7 linked regions of the Homo sapiens genome follow. The protein of the gene in region 2 interacts with the protein of the main gene of each other region in a biochemical or structural test. Each region holds a gene or a part of one and is shown on either strand. Other genes may lie near its edges. The genes, in order: ZBTB7A, KHDRBS1, SASH1, RUSC2, ABI2, NCK2 and LCK.

Region 1 (3,500 bases), on a different chromosome or scaffold from region 2:
CACCCACAGACACACATATATGCACACACACGCAAACAGACACACCCCACCTCTTGGGCCCAAAGCCAACGAACGCTTCCCTGACCCACGTGGCTGTTAAGAACAGCCTAGACCAGGCCCTGCCCTTGTGGGTGGACATCCCGGTGGGTGACAGCACAGGCCAGACATAAGATGACAGCCACATCATATGCAAAGCGTGCCGGACAGGGTTGAGCTGCGGGAGGTGGGCGGGAAGGCACAGTCGTTCTTCCTTCCTGGAGGGCTGGTTCTTCTCTTCTGCACTTTTGGATTTTTTTCTTTTTCTGCTTTGGGAGAGGGTGACAGGCCCTCAGGCTTAGGGAGGGACAGCCCAGGCCGTGGAGCGGCTTCTGAGTTTCCCGTGAGCCTGGGTCATTTGCTTCAATCAGCCAACATTTATGAAGCGTCTGCTGGTGCCAGGCCTGTTCTAGGCGCCGGGGACAGGCCTTGCCGGAACCTGAAGGAGGGGAGGAGCAGCTGTGGGAAAGGGCGTTCCAGGCAGAGGGAACAGCCAGTGCAGAGGCCCTGAGGCCAGCTCAGCTTGAGAGATCACTGTGCCCCCCTGGGAGCCACAGGACTTGGTCCCTAAACAGCAGGAGTTCAAGGCCAGGCCCGGGCAGTTTGCAATTCGGTCTCAGGAGTCCAGAGGTGGCTGGCTGGGCCTCGTAGATCCGGGGCGGGCTGTAGCGGTGGGGGCAGGGGGCTGGCAGGCAGGGACCTGGCCAGGCTGGGTGACTCAGCACCACCCCCTGCCCCCCGCCCGCCCTGGGGTTCCCCCAGCCACGCCCACCGAGGCTGAAGAAAGAGGCCATTGTCCCAGCTTCCCAACCCCACCCCGTGGGGACAGGAACTGGGACTGACCCCTCCCCAGCACCCCGGCCCCCTCCCCAGCAGGCCAGGAGAGGAAGGTGCGGCCTGGACTCCGGCGCCCAGGAGTGCCAGGCAGGGGGCAAAGGGCACTTTGGGAGGCAGGCAGTGTAGCTGGTGGTTTGTCCCTCCTTGGTGAGGTTGGGGTACTGGAGGTCTTGGGGGGCTCCTCTTCCTCCAGGCAGGGGTCACTGTGGGTTCGTCTCTGAGCTCAGGAAGAGCAGCTTGGTGGGGTGCAGAGAACTGGGGTCTGCAGAGGGGACCAGGCTGAGCGAAGGTGGTGACCCCCACCCTGCCTCCCTGGCCGCAGGCCACAGGCCCGGTTTCATTCTGACTCGGGCACTGCTGGCTATCCCACCCGACCCGGGGCTGATCCCCTCAGTCAGAGAAACTGAGGCTTAGAGAGGGACAATTGTGGAGACCTCTTCCTCCCACCCCAATTTAGACCCACCTGCTTCCTCTTTTCCCCCACCCCGTGCTCTGGTCCCCCCTCCCCAGGACACCAGCACCTCCACCCTCCAAAAGCCTGGGAGCCCGAGGCCCCTCTGAGTCACAGCAGGGCGTTGAGTAAGTGGGGCCTGTGGTGGCCGGGGCTATAATTACCCAGGCTGGGGCTCGGGGTGATGAAACTAGGGATACCTCCGCCCCCACCCCGCCTCTGCGTGGCCCTCTGGCCTGCTGTGCAGCTCCAGGCAAGTCCCTTCCTCTCTCTGGGCCTCCCAGGCTCATCTGGGGAGTCTCTGCACGGTTCTAGAAAAACCTAGTGGCTGCCATCCCCTCTGTGACCCCGGCCCTGTGCCAGATCTGGGCAAGGCAGCCCGGAGACCTTGCCGTGGGCTTTGCAGAAGGTGATCAGTAAACCAGAGGCCTGGAGGCTGGTAACAGACCTGGTTAGGCCAGGGTTCTGTTAGCAAGTTACCACGTTCTGTTGGCTTCAGTGGGGCAGCAAGGCTAGAGATAAGGTAGGGGTCTGGTTGCCAAGGGCCAGGCCTTGACCCTCAGGGCAACAGAGCCAAGGAGGGGTTAAAGTTAGGGACACCAGCTCTGTAGCTGGTGCCAGAGGGAGGGACTTAGGGCTGGAGGAACCCAGAGGGGAGCCAGGTCTTTGGGAATTAGGAAAGGTAGAGGGGCATTCAAGGTAGGGCTTTGAGGGATGAGTAGGAGTTTGCCAGTCCCCACACTAAAGAAGTCTTCAGTCTATTGAGTGTGAGAAGGAAGAAACCCGAGGTGGCTCAGATGTGGGGCACAACAGGCAGCAGCAAGGAGTAGGTCAGGTTCTAGCCAGGGCTCTTGAGACCCAGGGCTCCCTCCTGCCCTCCGGATCCCAGGAAGGAGTACACTTTATTACTATAGATTGGCATCACTCAATGGGAATAGGCAAGACACCTACTTTTTTTTTTTTTTTTTTTTTTTTTTTTGAGACGAGTCTTGCTCTGTCGCCCAGGCTGGAGTGCAGTGGCACGATCTCAGCTCACTGCAACCTCCACCTCCCAGGTTCAAGCGATTCTCCTGCCTCAGCTTCCCAAGTAGCTGGGATTATAGGCGCCCACCACCATGCCGGCTAATTTTTGTATTTTTAGTAGAGACGGGGTTTCACCACGTTGGCCAGGCTGGTCTCGAACTCCTGACCTCAGGTGATCTGCCCGCCTTAGCCTCCCAAAGCGCTGGGGTTACAGGTGTGAGCCACCATGCCCGGCCAGCAAGCCACTTACATATTTTTACATTTTCTGACAGCCCCGTTCAAAAAAAGTCAAAGAGAGTTGGTGAAAGTGACTTGAAACATTTTACCTAACCCAGTAGATGCATTTCCATGTGTAGTCAATGTGCACGATCCTCATTGAGCCATTTTACATCACCTTTTGCATATCAAGTCTTCAAAAGCTGGGGTACCTTTTGCACTTCCAGCGCACATCAGTTCAGAGTGGCCACATTCCAAGGGTTCAGGAGCCACCTAGGCCACAGGCACCCCACTGATATGGTGACCGGCTTTGTAGGCTAGAGGCTCCAGGCTAAGCTGGGTCCACGCTGCCCCCATGGGGCGAGACAGGCAGGGAGGGGCCCTCAAGTCACACCCAACCCCTGCCTTCTCGGGGCTCACAATCCAATCAGGGAGACAGAGGAGAAACAAGGAAATCAACAGAAACAAGAGAGACCGGCCGGGCGCGGTGGCTCACGCCTGTAATCCCAGCACTTTGGGAGGCCGAGGCAGGCGGATCACTTGAGGTCAGGAGTTCAAGACCAGCCCAGCCAACATGGTGAAAACCCTGTCTCCATTAAAAATACAAAAATCAGCCAGGTGTGGTGGCGCACGCCTGTAATCCCAGCGTTTGGGGAGGCCGAGGCGGGTGGATCACCTGAGGTCAGGAGTCCGAGACCAGCCCGGCCAACATGGTGAAACCCCGTCTCTACTAAAAATACAAAAATGAGCCAGGTGTGGTGGCAGAGGGCCTGTAATCCCAGCTACTTGGGAGGCTGAGGCAGAAGAATTGCTTGAACCCGGGAGACGGAAGTTGCAGTGAGCGGAGACCACACCACTGCGCTCAAGCCTGGAAGATAGAGCGAGACTCGGTCTCAGAAAAAAAAACAATAGAAGAGTCAGGTGGTGATGACAGGAG
Region 2 (3,500 bases):
AAAGCCCCCCGAGGTGGTCCAACACCACGGCCCCTACAAAATGAAAGTTTATCTTAAATGGAGCTTTTTATAAACAGGCCACTTTTATGTTCTGATTTGTTTACAAATTCTGGAATTAGGCAGATTTTATGAAGCCTTAACTAGGCTATTATTAAAGCACAGAGGAATGTACAGGGTAAAGGACCCACACTGCAAGATCCCCCAGGTCCTATAGAGGACCAATTCATCACTGCACTGCCTTGGGTAGGTCTGGAGAGTCTGAATACTCTATAAAGGTCAGTCACAAAAGGTAGAATTTTAAAGTCAGACCATTAACAAATGCTAAGACTGTCCAAAATTAGAAGACCAAAAGTTTCAGCTAGACTGCAGCACTTGGCTATGGTCAAAGTGCCCAAGATCTAGAACTCTATTTTTTTTTTTTTTTGAAATGGAGTCTTGCTCTATCTCCCAGGCTGAAGTGCAGTGGCATGATCTCGGCTCACTGCAACTTCCGTCTCCTGGGTTCAAGCAATTCTCTTGCCCCAGCCTCCTGAGTAGTGTGGTGTATGCCACCACACCTGGATAATTTTTGTATTTTTAGTAGAGACAGGGTTTCACCATGTTGGCCAGGCTGGTCTCAAACTCCAAATGTCAGTTGATCCGCCTGCCTTAGCCTCCTAAAGTGCTGGGATTACAGGTGTGAGAGTATGGTTGTAGAATTCTGTTCTTTATGCAACATACAAATCCTGAGACCCTTCCTAAGCTAGACATAAGAGCACCACTAAAAGAGATGACACTAGTAGTCAAATTCACATCCTATTTCTGGGTGTCTCCATTATTTTTACCTGGGAACAGGTGGTGGAGGAGGTGCAGCTCCCCGGCCTCTCACTGGCACCCCACGTCCACGAGAGGGTTCAGGTACTCCATTCAAGTAGGACAGCTCTAGAAATTGCTCCTGACAGATATCATCCATCATATCCTGGGAACGAAAGATACAAGGAGTATTGTGTGGTATCTACACTTTCTACTGAGAAATCATCTGGTCCACGGGAGACTTGAATTCTAAGAAGAGCTCTTGAGAGCCCAGATGAGGTCTCAGGTCATTCCTTCTCTGAAGTCAAATGGCACCCTATCTGTCACCTCTTTGAGAAAAGTCTTGATGGTAGACCCCTCATTATTCATAATGTGGTCTCTGCCTAGCTCTCCGGATCACTTCCATTCTCTCTCTATATATAACCTACTCACAAGCCAGACTGAACAACTTGTAGTTCAGAGCCTGGCATACTCTTACATATCCATTCTTTGCAAATAGTTTCCTTTTCCTGGAATAATAAAAGCCACTACCATTAATGGAGCTGTATGCACTTGGCTCTATATAATAAGCTTTATATAGATTTTTCAGTTTAATCTTCAAAATGAGGGCCGGGTGCAGTGGCTCACGCCTGTAATCCCAGCACTTTGGGAGGCCGAGGCGGGCAGATCACGAGGTCAGGAGATCGAGACCACCCTGGCTAACACGGTGAAACGCTATCTCTACTAAAAATACAAAAAAATTAGCCGGGCGCGGCAGGCACCTGTAGTCCCAGCTACTCGGAAGGCTGAGGCAGGAGAATGGCGAGAACCCGGGAGGCGGAGCTTGCAGTGAGCCAAGATAGCGCCACTGCAGTCCGGCCTGGGCGAAAGAGAGAGACTCCATCTCAAAAAAAAAAAAAAAAAAAAAAAAAATCTTCAAAATGACCCTGAAATAAGTAGGCAGATCTCCACATTTTACAGTTAAGAAAACAGACTCAAGGAGTATACATCAACCAGCTTAAGAACACAGAGCTAATAAATGGCAGACTCTAGATGTGAATTCAGAATTACCTGTCTCAAAATCTAGGTGTTGGATCAACAGGCTTTTTTGTCCTTATACTGTCTTTTTTGTCCACCTGAGGGATTCTTAATTCATCCTTACAAGACTTGCCTAAATAAGTGTCTCTTGAAAAACTTTCTCTTGATGCCACCCCTACAACTCCTCTTTTCTCAAAGTACCACATAATTCCCTATACCCAAGCACTTACCACATAATTTTAGAATTGTCTGTCACTAAACTGTAAGCTCTTTAGGAGCCATTTTTGTAACTTTACACCCAAGCATAGTATCAGACATCTGACAGATACTTAAGAAATGTTTGGGACGAACAAGAAACCTGAAGCTCAGAAAAGTGAAATGATAACCTGTTCAGGAAGACACAGATAGACAGACATACATAGTCCAGTGCTCTTCCTACGGCACTGTGAAGCATTGCTGGTATAGTTAATTGTTCTAAGTGGAAAATGGAGGGCTCTGGTCACAGATGCAAAAATAGCCTCACTTTTCTTTCCTCCACAAGAGGGAAAAATCAAATGCCACTGGCAAATCTTTTCACACTTCCTATTGAGAGCCATTCAGTCTTAATACTTCATGCATTTTTATATATCCCAGGCGTATACAGCTTCAATAGATGATGCTAGTCTTTGATGCCCCCCTCAACTCTCTAGCTCCTCCTACCTTACACATTACCGCTGCTTGAGACTCACACCTTGGAGAATCAAGTAACCAATGCCAGACCATTGCTCAGACTCCTCCAACTGCCACATCAACACTGAGGAAACCCACATCTCCCCGGCAAGCATCTTTTTCAAAAGATTCACTTACAAGCAAGCCTCATAAACCTAACCCTTCTGAGGAATATGAGGGAGACTAACAATGAAGAGAGGAGATGGGCATTCCCTCTGCAGTCCTTTGGAAATTGAATGGCTTGGGTGATCAATAGAACACCCCAAAAAGAGTAAAAAGAATTTCCTTAAGATTATTAACCAGCTGTGTTTTTCTCTAGGATATGTTAAATGGTCTGTTTCATGTTGAACATTCTTTTTTTTTTTTTTTTGAGACAGAGCCTCACTCTGTCACCCAGGCCAGAGTGCAGTGGCGCAATCTCGGCTCACTGCAAGCTCCGCCTCCCGGGTTCATACCATTCTCCTGCCCCAGCCTCCCGATTAGCTGGGACTACAGGCGCCTGCCACCACGCCCAGCTAATTTTTTTTTTGAATTTTTAGTAGAGACGGGGTTTCACCATGTTAGCCAGGATGGCCTTGATCTCCTGACCTCGTGATCCACCCGCCTCGGCCTTCCAAAATGCTGGGATTACAGGTGTGAGCCACCGCGCCCTGCCTCATGTTGAACATTCTAATGAAGATGAGGTACTTGAAAGCAAAGCAGCTGCTAAGACATTTGAGACTGTTGGAATCCTTGGAGTTCAGCATTATGGGTACACAATGCCTAAAAACTTATTTATTTATTTTTTTTGGAGATGGAGTTTCACTCTTGTTGCCCAGGCTGGAGTCCAATGGTGCAATCTCAGCTTACCGCAACCTCTGCCTCCTGGGTTCAAGTGATTCTCCCGCCTCAGCCTCCCTAGTAGCTGGGATTACAGGCATGTGCCACCACGCCCGGCTAATTTTGTATTTTTAATAGACAGGGTTTCTCCATGTTGGTCAGGC
Region 3 (3,500 bases), on a different chromosome or scaffold from region 2:
CCAGTTGGCATCTTGGTTCTTTTGTCTTCTGAAAATAAAAATAAGTGCTTGTCTTGTCTTTGGGGGTCAAAGAGAACCGCACTAATTTATTTCCTCGAGGGGGCTTTTCTGGAGGAGAGGATCCTCAGTCCTGTGCCAAGGTTTCACGCTGTTTGGCCACACGCCAGGCCTTTCTTCTGGATCTGGTCTGCACGTCCAGAGATGATGGAGGAATTGCATCAGCATCATATGCACAGTGAAAGGGTGGCTCTTGTCCAGAGAGGCCCATTCCGGGCCTGGCTACATGGCCTCAGGGCCTGGCGGCAGTTTGAAGAGTCTGGCTGCAGATAGGAGCTTTCTTATGTGTCTCTCCTCTGTGATGCCGGCCTCCTGAAGGCAAGTGTGAGACAGAGAAGGCACTTGGCTCAGTGTGCTGAAGCCCGCGGTGGAGAGGGTGCCGGCGTACATGGGCAGACCGATGGAAATGAGCCAATCTGACACAGACGAAATGCACCCAGGAGAGACGGGCTTTCGGCAGATTTCCGTGAGTCCACCACTTGGAATCTGGATAAATTAAGAAAGAATATGATAGAAACGCTCCATGTGTCATCGAGGACTACTTCGCGTATGTCTAAAAGGAACAGCACTGAAATACTGCATTGCTAGACTATTATCAGAAAGCGACAATGCAATGAGTGTCAGAGATCAAGACTAGCAGGAAAAATTCTTCTCTAAGATGAAACAAATCTTTAAGGAAGAGTTCCACAAGGTTCTCGAAGGTGTTGGAATGAGGTCAAATCCCATTTATGTGTCCGAGTCTTCAAACTATAAGCATTTACATATTCTGCTATTTTGTTTCACTGTGGATATGCTCTTGACAAAGAGCCCTAAGGTAGTCTGAAGGGACAAATCTGGGTGATCGTGTGAAATGTAGCATTCAGTGGGTAGGGTTTTTATAAAGGAGACTTTCCACTGTATTTTGAATCTATGTTAACAACCAGAAAATTACATGTTTAGTCAATACAAGTTATGAAGAATTTAAAATACAATAATATCAAGGGTTGGCTGGAACAGGGAAGTGGACATTTAACCTTGACTACTGGGTATATAAAGGGCCTGCACCTTTCAGAAAGGTGATTTGCTAACGAGTATGAAAATCTTTGGGATTTTATACAATTTTGATGAAGCAAACCATCTTCCAGGAATATCTACTCAGAAATTAACCTTTAAAGTCTACAAAGATTTATTAACAAGGATGTTCTTCATTACATTATTTAAAATAAAAGGTTAGAAAAATCTAAATGTTTTAACTATGAGACTCACTACTAGAGTACACTGACCTACTAGAATACTTTGAAATACAATAGCCACCCCCCTGCTTATCCATGGTTTTGCTTTCTACAGCCTGAAAATATTAAATGGGAATTTCCAGAAATAAACAATTCATAAGTCTTATATTGCATGCCATTCTGAGTAGTCTGAAGAAATCTCACACCACCCAGCTCTGTCCCACCTGACAATCATCCCTTTGTCTAACAAATCCACGCTGCCTACACCACCAGCCCCGCAGTCACTTAGTAGCCCGTAGTCATCAGATCAACTGTTGCGGTAATGCAGTACTTGCATTCAAGTCACTCTTATTTGACCTTACAATGGCCCCCAAGTGCAAGAGTAACGATGCTGGCCATTCGCACGTGGCAAAGAGAAGCCCTTAAGTGCTTCCTTTAAGTAAAAAGGTGAGAGTTCTTGACTTAATAAGAAAAGAAAAAAAATTGTATGCTGAGGTTCCTAAGACCTACAGTGAAAACGAATCTTCTATCCATGAAATTGTGAAGGAAAAAGAAATTTGTGTATAATATATACAGGGTTTGGTACTCAGCAAGCTTTCAAGAGATCCACTTGGAGGTCTTGGACCATAATCCCTCATGGATAGGGGGAGACTACTGTATTGATGATATCAATTTTTTTTTTTTTAAGTAACAGGGAAACAGATTCATGATCTGATAATAGCCAACAATCAGGTTTCGGTACTATACATTTACGCATACATTACGCATGTGCAGAGAAATGACTAGACAGAGTTTTAATGGACAAGTAAAAATTGTGTGTATTTATGGTGTAAAACGTGGTGTGTTGATAAATGTACACATTGTGGAATGGCTAAATCAAGCTATTTGACATATGCATTACCTCATATACTATATTTTGTGGTGAGAACACTTAAGATCTGCTGTCCTAGCAATTTTCAAGTATACATTGTTATTAACTGTAGTCACCATGTTGAACAATAGATCTTTGGAAGTTATGCTTCTAACTGAAACTGTGTCATTCAGACGGATTTTATTTTATTTCTTAAGAGATGGGGTCTCACTATGTTGCCCAGGCCGGCATCAAAATTCTGGGCTCAAGCAATCCTCCTGCTTCTGCCTCCCAAGTAACTAGGATTACAGGTGTGCACTATCACGCCCAGCACTAGACGGATCTTTAAAAAGTTTTTCACAGTGTTGGGATTACGGATAATTTTCATTTTTTTTTTCTTTCTGAAAGTGTATTTTTAAACATTTCTAGGCTGACCACATATTACTTTCTCCCCAGCTGTCTCCTTTCCATAGCTACGCAAGCCCTTGCCTACTTGGCAGTTGTTAGTATGGTCATCACTAAGCGTGATCACTAAATGTGCCTCAGGAAGCTGGAGAACTGTGGGCTGCTCACCGCCATGCGGTGCTGCTTCCGAAGCTGCTTCACCCGGATCTGGTCCATGTTGGCGGCGACGTCCCGCTCGGGCTGATCCAAGTCCTCTGCGTATCTCTGCACCAGGGCTTCAGGAATCCCACAGCGGCCATGCTGCCAGGGAGAACAGGAATATGACATCAAGAGTCATAAGGATTTTGTTTTTCTTTCCCTAAGATACACCACATATAACGTAGGGTCTCACTGTCACTTAGACTGGAGTGCAGTGGTGTGATCATGGCTCACTGCAGCCTCAAACTCCTGGGCTCAAGCGATCTTCTCGCCTTGGCCTCCCAAAGTGTTGGGATTCCAGGCGTAAGCCACCACACCCAACCCAAAAGTTTGAATTTGAAATGAATATATTTTCTTTATTGGTCAGGATGAATGCTTTAGAGGGAATACTTTTACATCTTTATCTTAAAGTACTGATGAGCTCTAGGAAAATGTTCTGAAGCATAGTTAAGGCAGAACACAATTATTCCACATTTTTCAGGACAATGCCTTCGCCTCAATCAGATCATTTTGCAAAATACAACTCCTCTAATGTTACTGAAGAGAGTCTTCTAAACTGCAGGAGAGAAGGGCTAACTTCTGCTTTACAGATATTCAACTGTTTGCACTTTATCTGCTACAAGTGATACCACCAGCTCACTAGGCCAGCATTTACTGTATGGTCTTTCTCACTACCTTTCATTTAAAGACATTCACTCAGGAAATATCAAGGAGGGTCAGAGAGGTGGAGGAGGATCTGATTCTAAGGCATTCATTGTCATGAGAATTTTATAATAAAG
Region 4 (3,500 bases), on a different chromosome or scaffold from region 2:
ATGTTTAAAAGGAAATCATTAGTCTTATAGAAAAACTCTAGCTATCCGGAACTCTAGAAAAATAAGCTGTTCTGTTTGGCTATAACTTTAAATAAATAGAATACAGCCAACTTTAACAAAGTTTGACTGTATCTTTAAACAGAAATAAACAACTTTCAAAAAACAAGTAAAGAACATTTTGGAAGAGAAACAACTTGAGGATGAACGGGACTAGTAGTAGGTTCCCAACTTTCTCCCCTGCAGTTTTTGCTTTTTACCTTGGGTTCATCTAAATCCTATCTATGCTGCCTTTAGGAGAACTTTGCTCTTTTTCTTTTGCCTGGGCGTGGATAAAAATAAATGTCCATTTTCCCTAAGTACACTAAATACAAGGGTGCATTTTCTTTTTTTAAAAAGAATTATACAGGAAAAGAAAGGAAGCACAAAGTATAAAAACAGATAAATTAAATACAGATTTTTTTGGATCCTAAGATAAACAAGTTAAGTATAGACTTTTGATCCTAAGATAATTAAACTTTAGCCAGAAGTTGGCTGGCCCTATTTTTCTTTCCACCCAGTTATCAGTCTATTGTCCTTGTCTGCAGGAACTCACACAAGAAGCCAAAAATACAACACATACCTCAGAGTTTACCATCTCATTTTCTTGAAGATAAAAGACTTTTATTAAACCAACAATTCCAAGGAACAGAGGGTTTCTTCCTAAAGTATCAAAATTAATTTTTTAAAAACTTTAAGTGTTTTGGCAGAACTTTTTAAAATGTATTATGTAGGCTATAATTTAACTTTTCTTGATGACTCACTACTATTTTGTTTTTTGTTTTTGTTTTTGAGAGTTTCACTCTGTCGCCCAGGCTGGAGCACAGTGACACAATCTCAACTCACTACAGCCTCTGCCTCCTGGGTTCAAGCAATTCCTGTGCCTCAGCCTCCCAAGTAGCTGGGATTACATGTGCATGCCACCACGCTTGGCTAATTTTTGTATTTTTAGTAGAGCTGGGCTTTTACCATGTTGCCCAGGCTGGTCTTGAACTCCTGGCCTCAAGTGATCTGCCTGCCTCAGCCTCCCAAAGTGCTGGGATTACAGGCATAAGCCGCCACGCCTGGCCTCACTACTGTTAACATTAATAATATACCAGGCTAAAATAATGTTGTTTTCAGTGTCTATTAAGGACTTGCATACCAAATCAACAATCCCATAAGGATTGTGTGTTAAGAGAAATGGTTCACTTTTGCCATTTCTTTTTTCTTTTTTTGTTTTTTTTTTTTTGAGATGTAGTCTCACTCTGTCGCCAGGCGATCTCGGCTCACTGCAACCTCTGCCTCCTGGGTTCAAGTGATTCCCCTGCCTTAGCCTCCTGAGTAGCTGGGACTACAGGCACGCACCACCACACCCGGCTAATTTTTTTTTTGAATTTTAGTAGACATGGGGTTTCACCATGTTGGCCAGGATGGTCTTGATCTCCTGACCTCGTGATCCACCCACCTCGGCCTCCTAAAGAGCTGGGATCACAGGCGTGAGCCACCGCGCCTGGCCTCTTTTTCTTTCTTTTTTTGAGACAGAGTCTTGCTCTGTCTCCCAGGCTTGAGTGCAGTGGCATGATCTCAGCTCAGTGGCATGATCTTGGCTCACTGCAACCTCTGCCTCCCGGGGTCAAGCAATTCTCCTGCCTCAGCTACCCAAGTAGCTGGGATTACAGGCAGGCGCCAAGATGCCTGACTAATTTTTGTATTTTTAATAGAGACAGGGTTTCGCCATTTTGGCCGGGCTGGTCTCAAACTCCTGATCTCACGTGATCTGCCTGCCTCAGCCTCCCAAAGTGCTGAGATTACAGGCATGAGCCACCAAACCTGGCATTCTTTTGCCATTTCTATTTAACAGTCCTGGAATTCCTACCTGAGTAATTAGGTAAGAAAAAGAAATAAAAGGCATACAAATTGGGAAAAAAAAAAAACCAAAACTAAAATTATCTCTGTTCCAAGGTTACACGATCTTGTATGGAGAACACCCTAAAGATGCCACAAAAACATTAGAACTAATAATGATTAGTTGCAAATACCCTAAGCATTTTTTAGTGTCAGCAATGATGCAGGGTACAAAATCAACACATAAAAACCAGCTTTTTTATTTAATTAGCTGAGAATATAGGCAAAGTTGTTCTACTGTCCTGTAGTACATGTATAATTTTCCTATGGCAGTTACAACAAAAGATAGGAGAAACAAAGTTCCGTCTAAGTGTGACAGATGTAGATACATATCTTTCACAATGTTCCACAGGGACAGAGAAGTGATAAATCCTGCACCAAAGGAGTGAAAGGAGGAGACTGAATCTGCATGCCCAATGATCTCATGTTTAATAGCCTCTACATCTACTAATGGGCCCACTGCCAATGCAAGAGGGTCAGTTAAGTGGACATGAGTGTGCATATCATTAATAATATCAATGTCTTTAATGTCTGCAGTTAATGTTTTAATCACCCTAGGTCTGGAGATCTTCTTGGGGTATAATGAAGATCTTGTTGTCCTAAGATAGCTTCCCACAGATGTGTTTATTAGGATATACAATCTGCTGCCGACTTCAGGAGAAGTAGCATATAGTATTCGGATATATGGCTGGTAATACATAATTGTGATGTTCTTATACATGGCCAGGGGATACAGAGTTGTTGACCCATGGAACAAATTCTACCCAAATGGGTTTGCAACACCAAAACAAAACAGTTCTCCAGTTTACTAACCCAATTAAGTTCTTTTCATCCACAACAGCTCAACAAATGGGGTCATATCAGTAAGGGGTTGTACAGTAAAGATCTGCAAGAAAAGACTGAATGTTGCTTCTCAGTGATGGCTGCACTATCAATTAATGGGTTCAACATATCCACAATGTACTGCTGTGTCGTATCTCTCTTCCCTCAATGAGAAATCATGACAACTTGGCCAGATGCATCTGAACAGTCTACACCGAACCTGTCATCTAGAAACTTGTACTCACTCTCTAAGGGGAAGGACAGGAGAGGTGCAGATCGTCAAACTTTACATGGGTTGGATGCTCAAGTACTTGCCCATTAAAGATGCTTGACTGTGTAGTCACTATTCGTTTTGTGAGGATTAAATGCCAGATTCAAGTATACATACTCATAGTTTAATCTCAGCTATGCCAGGTGTGCTCAGTATCAGTGGGGAAGATGAGCAATAAAGACAATTTTAACCTTAGCGTCCTCTAGGCAAAAACATAACTGTCTTTTGTACAGCTGTCAAGTGAGTGGCCATGTGTCAGGGCCATTTCCACAATAACACCATGTAGTGCATGGATCTGTTACATATTGTTTTACTATAGTATATCCAGCTTAATCAGGTGCAGGGCGACAGTTGAAGGAGTACTCCTGGAAAATGCCTAAGATATGTAGATCTCTAGGATCTTGCACCTTCTGGTGGTTGCATGAAATTCTTCAGAGGAATCATCAGTGATAGTAAATTTACATGTTACATTCATAACAACTCT
Region 5 (3,500 bases), on a different chromosome or scaffold from region 2:
AATATAAATTAGAAATCTGTTCATTTGATCTTATAGAGATGTGACTTGGTCTAGGGATTGGGGACATTTACATATTACCCACATGTTCTCTTCATATACACACAAACACACACTTAGCCCAAACCCATAGACCATAACAGTAAAAAAAAAAAAAAAAAAAGGGAAGACCAATACAGTAAATAGAAAGATAACAATAAGCCTAAAATAAAGGGTCATTGTTATAATAGAGCAAAAAAATTGGCACTAAGCCTCCAGGGAGAGAAGGCAAAATAGAAACATAATGAGTTACGAGGAAATATATCAATTCATCAGGAAAGTGAAATGTTTCCCAGGATTAAATTCTTTAAAAATATATTTGTTGTTGCTTTTTATATCAAATCTCAGTAAAAACTGAAGGCATGTTTTTTAAACAGCATAAGTATACAGAAAGTCAAAATAATTTAGTTTGGCTATATGATGTTTTTAATTGTCTACTTCAAAGAATGCCTACATCTTAGAAACACTAGGGGCAGGGTAACTCAACAGTGGCACTATTGACATTTTGGGCTTGATAATTCTTTGTTGTGGGCAGGGGTGAAGGCTGCTGTCTTGAGGATTGCAGAATATAGAAAAGCATCCAGGTAGATAACTGTAGCACTCCCCCACCATGAGATGTGACAACCAAAAATGTCTAACATTGCCAAATGTCCCCTTGGGGGCAAAACTTCCCTGGTTGAGAACCAAAGATCTATAGAGGAAGGACTAATTAGCTGGTCCCTTACCTCATTCAATCTCAAACTGCAATTGTTTCCAAATTTGGTCACAAAAGTCGACTCAAGATCAACGCCTCTAATTTGCCTAAGTATAGATATTTTAAGTAAATAACTTTTAAAAAACATCTATAATAATAAAGGTAATCTAACAACGGTATAATTTGCATTCTTGCCATCATACTACCACACGGGGTTGAACTGCAGTATTGCCTGTGGGCAGAAGAAAACATGCCTTTAGAAAATGGCTACGGTTCTATTTGGAGTTTGAATAATTTGACAGAGAGCACTAAATCTATTTCATAAACAAGCAGAAGATTCTCAGGTTGGTCCAGAAGATTCTAAGGTTTTCAGCAATCATCTGCTTCAATTTTTTTATAGCTTTCACTTGTAGAAAATAAGCATATTCAAATTAGATAGAATAATAAACACTCCCTCCTCACATCTATCATGCAGCTTTAACATTCATAAATTCGTAGACAATTGTCAGTTGTAAAAGAAATTTAGGAAAGCTCCTGTAACATATTCTTAAATAAAATATGGCTACTATATTTTTCCTACATCAAATTCACAGTATCAGTAATTATGGCATTTGCCCTCATGATATTCTTTGACATTACAATGTTAAATTTCATTAAGTTAAATTTTGGAAGTACAAGTTCAACACTGATATTTAGGATGAATTTTAAAAGTAAGAAAAGTATTTCAAATTTATTCTGGGTTTTTTAAGTTACTAGTTATATGACAATAAACCTACTTATTTAGAAGAGACCTCAATAACAGCACTCACCTGTGGCAAGTAAAAAATGTGTTCTGCTAGCAATCAAAGATGACCAAAACTAATTCAAATACACAATTAATATAATTATTGTTTGCTACAGATCCCATTAACCAAAAAACACACCAAGATATATCACTGCAATTGTATAGGACTTAATAAACAACTATTCTCCCACAGTTCCTTATTAATTAGCTTCCCCATCCTTCTCACTGATATTGCCAAGCTGATCTTGCATGCTGCAGGCTTTCCCCATGACACTTCAGCCACACAGTGCCAAACCCAGGTTCCTTAAGGATACCTCTTATGGCCTTGAGATAATCATACTGACTCCCAGCTCCTTTGCAAGCCTGAGCCCCACTCCCACATCTCCCTCATGAACCCAAGCACATGCTCAGGCCACAGCAGATGACAGGAAGGTACTGTATAAAATATTTTGTTTTAGGATTATCCATGCATTGTCATTTCCCATTACCACAGATAATTGAAAGTTGACTGTACTGGATAGCACTACCTCAGTTAGCTGCCCATCAGTGTGGGAAAACATCTGCAATCAAACAGTTACAGTGGATTAACCCAACTAAATTGGGTGTTTTTAAATATGTCTCAATTTTTTTTATTAGTAAGCTAATGTTTCAAATAAACATTTAAATTACAATTATGCTTCAAATTATGTATCATTCATAAAACAAATTAGTTACTAACAGAGTAATTTTCAGTTTTTTTATATAAAGTGATATAAAAACTACATAGGAAATTAATTGGGAAGTATAAAAAGTCTACTTTCTATGCATAATTACGTATTGATAACCTTCAGTGTATCTCCTTAATTAAAATTGGAAATTCCTTTTTTTTTTTTTTTTTTTTTGAGACAGAGTCTCGCTTTGCCACCCAGGCTGGAATGCAGTGGCACGATCTCAGCTCACTGCAACCTCCGCTCCCAGGTTCAAGCAATTCTCCTACCTCAGCCTCCAGAGTAGCTGGGATTACAGGTGCCCACTACCACACCCAGCTAATTTTTGTATTTTTAGTAGCGACAGGGTTTCACTATGTTGGCCAGGCTGGTCTCAAACTCCTGACCTCAGGTGATCCGGCCACCCTTAGCCTCTCAAAGTGCTGGGATTACAGGCGTGAGCCACGGAGCCTGGCCAAAATTAGAAATTCTTAAGCAAGGCTATCTATATAAAGTTTTTGTGTTTTGGGTTGTTGAGACAGTGTCTCACTCTGTTGCCCATGCTTGAATCCAGTGGCATGAACATGGCTCACTGCAGCCTCGACCACCTGGGCTCAAGTGATACTCCCGCCTCAGCCTCCTGAGTAGCTGGGACTACAAGTGTGCACCACCACACCTGGCTAATTTTTGCATTTTTTGGAGAGATGGAATTTTGCCATGTTGGCTAGGCTGGTCTCAAACTCCTGACCTCAAGGGATCCGCCTGCCTCAGCCTCCCAAAGTGCTGGGACTACAGGCATGAGCCACCACACCCAGCCTAAAGTTTTTAGACAGTAAAAGCTACCCTACTTGTTGAGTTCTTAAGGCCACTGCCTTTCAATACCTAGCTCTTGAGAAGAATTACTTCCAATTTTATATTATTTTATGATAATTATTTTCCAGCTCCTTTAATTGTTACCTGCTAACTAATTTAACACCTGGCCCAGTAAGTCCTACTCAGCCCTTGGGAAGGTGGGAAGAGCACTACTTTCTTAAGTTCTTTATGTTGCCTTTTGACCTTGCTTAATCTTTTTTTCTAAGCCATGACAAACTTGAACATGGATAAGTACTGACTAATTTTACTAGCAAAGAAAAAAGATGGGCCTCGCTTAGAAAAATTTTAGTTTAGTCTCCCTCTCCCTCTCCCGCTCCCTCTCCCTCTCCCTCTCCCCACGGCCCATGGTCTCCCTCTCCCTCTCTTTCCACGGTCTCCCTCTGATGCCGAGCAGAAGCTGGACTGTACTGCTGCCATCTTGGCTCAC
Region 6 (3,500 bases), on a different chromosome or scaffold from region 2:
TCATTTCACTAGCAAACCCTTAAGTGATAACCTGCAGTCTTGGATACAGACAACATTATACTCATAAGAAGGTAACAACGTTTTAAATGTCAGCTCAGATGAGTCATTCTTCAAAAAAGTCCTCGCAATTATTTTCTCAGGTAATCTGAGGCAGTAAATACTGTAAGTCAGTTCCGTGTGCATGTAAAGGCAAGACTGGATACTGTTAACTTTGTGTAACTCCAGGAGGGCACTGCCCATAACCTGACAACACCTGGGAAAACAAGAGGCACATGGGGAGCCGGGCACGGTGGCTCACGCCTGTAATCCCAGCACTTTGGGAGGCCAAGGTGGGCGGATCACAAGGTCAAGAGATCGAGATCATCCTGGCTAACACAGTGAAACCCCATCTCTACTAAAAATACAAAAAATTAGCCGGATGTGGTGGTGGGTGCCTGTAGTCCCAGCTACTCGGGAGGCTGAGGCAGGAGAATGGTGTGAACCCAGGAGGTGGAGCTTGCAGTGAGGCAAGATCGTGCCACTGCACTCCAGCCTGGGCAAGAGTGTGAGACTCCGTCTCAAAAAAAAAAAAAAAAAAAAGAGGCACATGGGGACAACAGTATGGCTGAACTAGGCCCCCACCATGGAGCGGCCTCTGATGTCACAAAGCTGCCCTCTTAGCTAACGGCACCCAGGACTGTGGTGTGATGTAGCATCCATTTCAGAGAGGGAAAAAGTGCTTTGGCTGTCCCCTGCTCTAGGCACGTAGGCCAAATGGACAGGATTGTATAAGAGAGAAAGAACTTCATGTCACGACACTGGCAGAGCTGGGTAGACTTAGAGGTGAGAATTCCAAGTCAGGCTCCTCTAACGTTTTGATACAAGGAGATACCTGTGCAGGGGTCCCAAGCACACAAAGTGTCTCCATACACAGGACCCCAAACTCCAGAATCTCCAGGAAATGAAAAACATCCTCTTTCTCCATCTTCATCTCTTAATTCTTAGATTATTAAAAAAGACAACTAGGAAGATATTAACTTTTAAAACAGACTTTTTTTTTTTTGAAACAGCAAACTAACTAGAAAGACGAACAGTGTCCCTTGAAATGCACAAGGCTTCCTCTCTCGAGGGTGAAACACTCACCTAGTGTGTCCTTCAGGTTCTTCACGAGGGAGCCCTTCTTCAGGCTGTTCTTCCGCTCCACGTAGTTGGACGGTACATAGCCCGTCCTGTTGGCCGCGTTCCTCACCCGCCACCACGTCTTGGAGTCGTCCAGCAACCACAGCCGCTCGTTCTTCTTGATGTCCAGCTCCTGGTCCTGCTGGGCGGTGTAGTCCCACTTGGCTATCACAATAACTTCTTCTGTCATCTTTCATGGAGTCCTTCTGCCAGCAAAACATTTGGAGATGCTCATTAGAGAACTACCCGGACACTTCATCCTTTGCACCAACTTGAAAAATTAGGCACTGACAGCTTTTATTACAACTCTGCAACCAGTTTTCTCCTGGGTCTTGAAATGCTCAACTTTAAAATGACCTTCTTTCAACAAGCTTTAGTATTTGGTTTAGAAACAGCAACCTTATAAAACAAATCTTATGTTACTGTTTGCTGTACATGGGGAAATCTGACCCTCTAACAAAAACAAACTTGAAAAAAATTCTAAATAACATTATAATTAAATGAGTCCATTTCATTAAGTAACACTGCCTCCTGATAACTGTTAGGTTGACACTCATTTTCTCAGGATATGCTGTGTCTTATAAACATATTTAATAAGTCAACATAACCAAACTACTCCTATAAATTAAAATTAACATTGTACTAATAACAAGGTGGTATCCTGGATTGGATCATGAAACAGAAAAAGAAAATTAATGGAAATACTGGTGAAATCAAAATAAAGTCTAAGAATAATAATAACAATAAATAATTGTCAATCTCTTAGTTTGGACAACACACCAGTAAGATGTTACTGCATTCACATAAGATGTTAACACAATGAGAAACCAGGTAAAGGGTATAAGGGAAAGTTCTGTACTATACTGGGAACTTTTTTATAAATATAAAATTATTCCCCAAAACTTTCATTCACACAAAAACCTGTGCAGAGACGTCTGTAGCAGCTTTATTCATAATTGCTCAAATTTGGAAGCAAGCAAAATGTCCTTTAGTAGGACACAGTTTATAGATACATAAACTGTGGTATATCCAGACAATGAAATATTATTCAGTACCAAAAAGAAATGAGCTATCAAGCCATGAAAAGACATAGCGGAACCTTAAACGCATATTGCTAGGTGAAAGAAGCCAATCTGAAAAGGCTACACACTGTGTGATTCTGACAGTTTATCCTTAACCAAACTTCAGCCAAATTCCTTTGAATCTTCTTCCCTTTAAGGCCTCAACTTTTGCACTTCCGTGTCCATCTCTGCATTGCCCAATTTTTGCAAGACTCTCCTGCTAAGGTGCTCTAGCTGGAATCCTCCACTCTCAACATCTGATCAGGTTCCTCATCCTCTACCATCCCCCAGGTGACAGCTGATCACCCTGTCCTGCCTTCAGAAGAATCCTGTTCGGTCAGTTTAGCCAGAATCCCCACGCTCCACCCCTGATGTTTCCTCTTAGTAATTTTCCACCCACCAACTCCCTTATTTTGCTCCTTGCCTATAAATGCCCACTCTTCCTTGTTGTCTTAATATTAGGAGTCAAACCCAATCTCTTTCTTGACTGCAAAACCCTACTGTAGTAGTCCCTCTGAATAAAATCTGCCTTACTGTTCTTCAACAAATGTCATGAATAAGTTTTTTCTTTAAAACGGTATGACATACTGGAAAAGACAAATCTATGGAGACAGTAAGAAAATAAGTGCTTGCCTGGGGCAAGAGGGAAGGGAGGGATGCAAGGGTGAAGCACAGGATTTTTAAGGCTGTGAAACTACTCTGCTCAATACTATAATGGCGGACACCTGTCATTATACATTTGTTAAAATCTATAAAATGTGCAACATCAAAAGTGAACATAACATTTTTCCAAAATGAAAAGTTTATCAAAACAACAATAAATAGATGCGTGTATTATATATCCAGTAAAGTCAATTTTGGAAGTAATAAATAGCAAAAGTGTGGCTGAATAAATAAAATAAATAATCAACTATTTTAGCAACTCTCTACTTCTTAGGTAGAAGATGAACCAATATTCTTTAAGCAGAAAAATTCAATATTCAGTCCTTAAACTAACTAGACATTTCTCCAAACTAGGGAGAAATGAATGATGAAAACACTCAGGACTAAAATCCCCTTCCTCCCTGACAGAGAAGTTCTCATTATTGTATAGGGATGACTTTAGGATTACAGGGGACCTATGCACATTGACTCCATGGAAGCATAAATACCATTTTTAAATAACATATTTTCTACTAGATGCTAAAAAAATTTTTTTATAAATAATACACGTTTCTTTCATGAATTAACTTCCAAATTTAAAGATAACAAACCTTTTGGGAAGGAGGAAAGCCTCTGCAT
Region 7 (3,500 bases), 240 kb from region 2:
AGATACATTCCCTATGGGTTTGCCTCTGTGGGAACCGGGAAGGAGCAGTGAGGACCCCTGGCAGGATAACTGGAGAATATTTCTGTATTTCCAGCTCCAGCACTACCCCTGGACGCTGGTTTGGGGCAAGCCCAGGGCAGGGAAGCCCCTCAGCTTTTCACCTGTTTCCAAGGTGGTTGTTTTTGTTTTTGTTTTGAAACAGAGTCTCACTTTGTCACCCAGGCTGGAGTGCGGTGGCATGATCTCAGCTCACTGCAACCTCTGCCTCCTGGGTTCAAGCAATTCTCCTGCCTCAGCCTCCTGAGTATCTAGGGTTACAGGCGCGTGCCACCATGCCCAGATAATTTTTATATATATTTTTTTTAGTAGAGACGGGGTTTCACCATGTTGGTCAGGCTGGTCTCGAACACCTGACCTTGTGATCCACCCGCCTCGGCCTCCCAAAGTGCTGGTATTACAGGTGTGAGCCACTGCATCCGGCCTTCCAAGGTGTCTTTACCTTCCTTGGAGCAAAGGTCTGTTCACCTTGCTCTGGGGATATGGGAAGCTTCTACAAATCTAGCCACTGTGCCGCATGACCCCCCTACTCCTGTCTTTATGCTCCATTTCCTTTCCCCAGAGTTTCTTAGCAAGTTCCTTTCAAAAATTCCATCCCTGTCTTGGCTGAATTCAGGGGTAAAGGGCTTTGTCCAGGAGATGGTGGGAGGAGTCAGTGTATACTGACAACCTACTATGAGTCAGGCTCTTTCACAAATGGTCTCTCATTTTTTCTTTTTTCTTTTTCTTTTTCTTTTTTTTTTTTTTTGAGACAAATTCTCTCTCTGTTGCTCAGGCTGGAGTGCAATAGAACAATCATGGCTCACTGCACCCTCAACCTCCTGGGCTCAAATGATCCTCCCACCTCAGCCTCCCAAATAGCTGAAACTACGGGTGTGTGCCACCATGCCCAGCTAATTTTTAAATGTTTTTTTTGTTTGTTTGTTTTTTTTTTTTTGTAGAGATGGAGTCTCTCTTTTTCTTGTTTTGAGACAGGGTCTTGGTCTATTGCCCTAGGCTGGAGTGTTATGGCATGGTCTTGGCTCACTGCAACCTCTGCCTCCCTGGCTCAGGTGATCCTCCCACCTCAGCCTTCTGAGTAGCTGGGACTAGAGGCACATGCCACCAAACCTGGCTAACTTTTGTTTTTGTAGAGATGGGGTTTCGACCAGTTTCCCAGGCTGGTCTCGAACTCCTGGGCTCAAGCAGTCCTCCCACCTTGGTCTCCCAAAGTTCTGAGATTATAGGCATAAGCCACTGTACCTGGCCTAGTCTCTTATTTTTAGTATCAGGAAACTGAGGCTTAGAGAAGTGAAGTGACTAGCTTCACTAGTTACAGTAATGATCTGAACAAAGCCAAACAGAAAGTTAGCAACAGTGGCAGATCTGCTGATAAAAGGTAGGCCTCTTGTTCCTGAGCTAGATCTTCTTCTACCATACCAGGCTGCCTGGGCCAGAACTAAAGAAAAGAGCTGGGGCCGGGTGTGGTGGCTCACGCCTGTAATCCCAACACTGGGAGGCCGAGGCAGGCCAATCACGAGGTCAGGAGATTGAGGCCATCCTGGCTAACATGGTGAAACCCTGTCTCTACTAAAAATACAAAAAATTAGCTGCGCATGGTGGCACGTACCTGTAATCCTAGCTATTTGGGAGGCTGAGGCAGGAGAATCACTTGAACCCAGGAGGCAGAGGTTGCAGTGATCCAAGATGGCGCCACTGCACCCCAGCCTGGGAGACAGAGCAAGACTCCGTCTCAAAAAAAAAAAAAAAAAAAAAAAAAAAAAAGAAAAAGAAAAAAAGAGAAAAAGAAAAGAGCTGGGGTTATTAAAGAGAGATACGGAGATGGAAGCCAGCCCTGGGAGATGTGGCATCTGCCTGGGGACGTTGGACTCATACCCCTGAGAAGATAGAGGAGATGCAGCTACAAAGTTTCAGATTCTGAGACTGGAAAGAATTGAATGGGAAGACATGGACTTGCCCTTCCCATCACCCTTTCAGTTCCTGCCCTTGGCTCTAACCTGGGTAAGGGATGCGGCCGTGGGTGACAATTTCCGTCAGCAGGATCCCAAAAGACCACACATCTGACTTGATGGTGAATGTCCCGTAGTTAATGGCTTCTGGCGCTGTCCACTTAATGGGAAACTTGGCCCCTAAGGAGGAGGCAGAGTGAGGTCACCTGGGTCTGCTTGGCCAGACCCTGCAGGGCCCAGACCACCCTTAAATCTCACACGTACCCTCCCTGGCTGTGTACTCGTTGTCCTCAATGAGGCGTGCTAGGCCAAAGTCTGCAATCTTGCAGCTCAGGGTGTCAGACACCAGAATGTTGGCAGCCCGAAGGTCACGATGAATATAATTCCGCTCTTCAATGAATGCCATGCCTTCTGCAATCTGCAGGCCAAACACAGATCAGCGGTCCTGAGCCAGATGTCTTCACGTCACTGGTCTGTTCCCTTGCCCAGCCCCCCTCCCCAGTCTCCTTACTTGGGCTGCCATGTCCAGGAGTTTGTTGATGGTCAACTTGATGCCTGAAGGGGTCTTGAGAAAATCCACTAGACTCCCTGTGGGCAGAAGCAAGAGTTGCTGGCCCAAGTTGCCCCAGGGGGAGGCCCCCAGACCTTTCTCCTCCAACTGGGAGTCTAGAAGTGTGTCTGACATGTGAAAAGGAAGATTGAAGAGTGAGAATGGAGGAGTGTGTGTTCAGGGTAAGGATGCCCAGGATATGTAAAGGTTTTTTTGCAGAGGGGCTAGGGTAGAGCATGCTGGGAGGGATCTGTAGGTTTTTCATCACCAATAAGGTAGAACCTAGAATCCTCAACTAGTATCCTAAGCTTGGCATGGTCCACACTGGTAGCTTCTTCTCTTTCCCCCACTCTGCCTTTGACTTCAAACAGTTTAGCAATTTTGAGATCCTGCACTCAGACCACTAGGCTCTCACCCCAAAGCCTCTTTGTTTCATCTCTGCCTGCTAAAAAAAATTCTACTTTTCTTTCGTGGCCCTGCTAGACTGCCCCACTAGGAAGCCTCTCTAGATCCTACCAGGCATAATAAACTGGATCATCATCTACACTCCCATGGGCATGCTGGAACTTTCCCATGGCACAAACTCTGGTTTCCCCAGTAGCTGTAACTAAAATCAGGTTTCCCTGACAACAGGAACCTTGTTTCATCCATCCATGTTCCTGGTGCCCAGCCGAGAGTAAGAAACAATAACTATGTGCTGAATATATTGGATGGAATAAGAAAGAGGGGGTCTGGGGGTCTGAGGGACCACCTCTCTAATAGTGGAGGGCAGCTGGACATGGATGGGAGTTGCTAGGATGCAGTGAGTGACCAATGGCCCTTCCCAAGAGATTAAAACCCTGTAAAAGGATGACAGCAACCTGAGTGTCCCCACTTTGAGTGCTGAACTAGTTACCAAAGACAAAGACCTCACCTACACACAGCAAATACATAGACATAGATAT

What was found.
Region 1: the proteins of KHDRBS1 (region 2) and ZBTB7A form a complex in vitro, tested with the Homo sapiens proteins (one study listed by BioGRID).
Region 3: the proteins of KHDRBS1 (region 2) and SASH1 interact in a test that uses a peptide from one of them, tested with the Homo sapiens proteins (one study listed by BioGRID).
Region 4: the proteins of KHDRBS1 (region 2) and RUSC2 interact in a test that uses a peptide from one of them, tested with the Homo sapiens proteins (one study listed by BioGRID).
Region 5: the proteins of KHDRBS1 (region 2) and ABI2 interact in a test that uses a peptide from one of them, tested with the Homo sapiens proteins (one study listed by BioGRID).
Region 6: the proteins of KHDRBS1 (region 2) and NCK2 interact in a test that uses a peptide from one of them, tested with the Homo sapiens proteins (one study listed by BioGRID).
Region 7: the proteins of KHDRBS1 (region 2) and LCK interact in a test that uses a peptide from one of them, tested with the Homo sapiens proteins (one study listed by BioGRID).

What each region holds. Positions count from the first base shown.
Region 1 is NC_000019.10:4,049,900-4,053,399, reverse strand, and holds part of ZBTB7A (zinc finger and BTB domain-containing protein 7A), read left to right. Parts: intron 1-3,500. UniProt on the Homo sapiens protein: Transcription factor that represses the transcription of a wide range of genes involved in cell proliferation and differentiation.
Region 2 is NC_000001.11:32,034,368-32,037,867, reverse strand, and holds part of KHDRBS1 (KH domain-containing, RNA-binding, signal transduction-associated protein 1), read right to left. Parts: intron 959-3,500; coding exon 825-958; intron 34-824; coding exon 1-33. UniProt on the Homo sapiens protein: Recruited and tyrosine phosphorylated by several receptor systems, for example the T-cell, leptin and insulin receptors. Once phosphorylated, functions as an adapter protein in signal transduction cascades by binding to SH2 and SH3 domain-containing proteins.
Region 3 is NC_000006.12:148,545,338-148,548,837, reverse strand, and holds part of SASH1 (SAM and SH3 domain-containing protein 1), read right to left. Parts: intron 2,824-3,500; coding exon 2,692-2,823; intron 544-2,691; coding exon 280-543; 3' UTR 1-279. UniProt on the Homo sapiens protein: Is a positive regulator of NF-kappa-B signaling downstream of TLR4 activation. It acts as a scaffold molecule to assemble a molecular complex that includes TRAF6, MAP3K7, CHUK and IKBKB, thereby facilitating NF-kappa-B signaling activation.
Region 4 is NC_000009.12:35,496,611-35,500,110, reverse strand, and holds part of RUSC2 (AP-4 complex accessory subunit RUSC2), read right to left. Parts: intron 1-3,500. UniProt on the Homo sapiens protein: Associates with the adapter-like complex 4 (AP-4) and may therefore play a role in vesicular trafficking of proteins at the trans-Golgi network.
Region 5 is NC_000002.12:203,373,394-203,376,893, reverse strand, and holds part of ABI2 (abl interactor 2), read right to left. Parts: intron 963-3,500; exon of another isoform or gene 879-962; coding exon of another isoform or gene 762-878; intron 1-761. UniProt on the Homo sapiens protein: Regulator of actin cytoskeleton dynamics underlying cell motility and adhesion. Functions as a component of the WAVE complex, which activates actin nucleating machinery Arp2/3 to drive lamellipodia formation.
Region 6 is NC_000002.12:105,852,912-105,856,411, reverse strand, and holds part of NCK2 (cytoplasmic protein NCK2), read right to left. Parts: intron 1,365-3,500; 5' UTR 1,349-1,364; coding exon 1,123-1,348; intron 1-1,122. UniProt on the Homo sapiens protein: Adapter protein which associates with tyrosine-phosphorylated growth factor receptors or their cellular substrates. Maintains low levels of EIF2S1 phosphorylation by promoting its dephosphorylation by PP1.
Region 7 is NC_000001.11:32,278,765-32,282,264, reverse strand, and holds part of LCK (tyrosine-protein kinase Lck), read right to left. Parts: intron 2,595-3,500; coding exon 2,518-2,594; intron 2,425-2,517; coding exon 2,271-2,424; intron 2,187-2,270; coding exon 2,055-2,186; intron 1-2,054. UniProt on the Homo sapiens protein: Non-receptor tyrosine-protein kinase that plays an essential role in the selection and maturation of developing T-cells in the thymus and in the function of mature T-cells. Plays a key role in T-cell antigen receptor (TCR)-linked signal transduction pathways.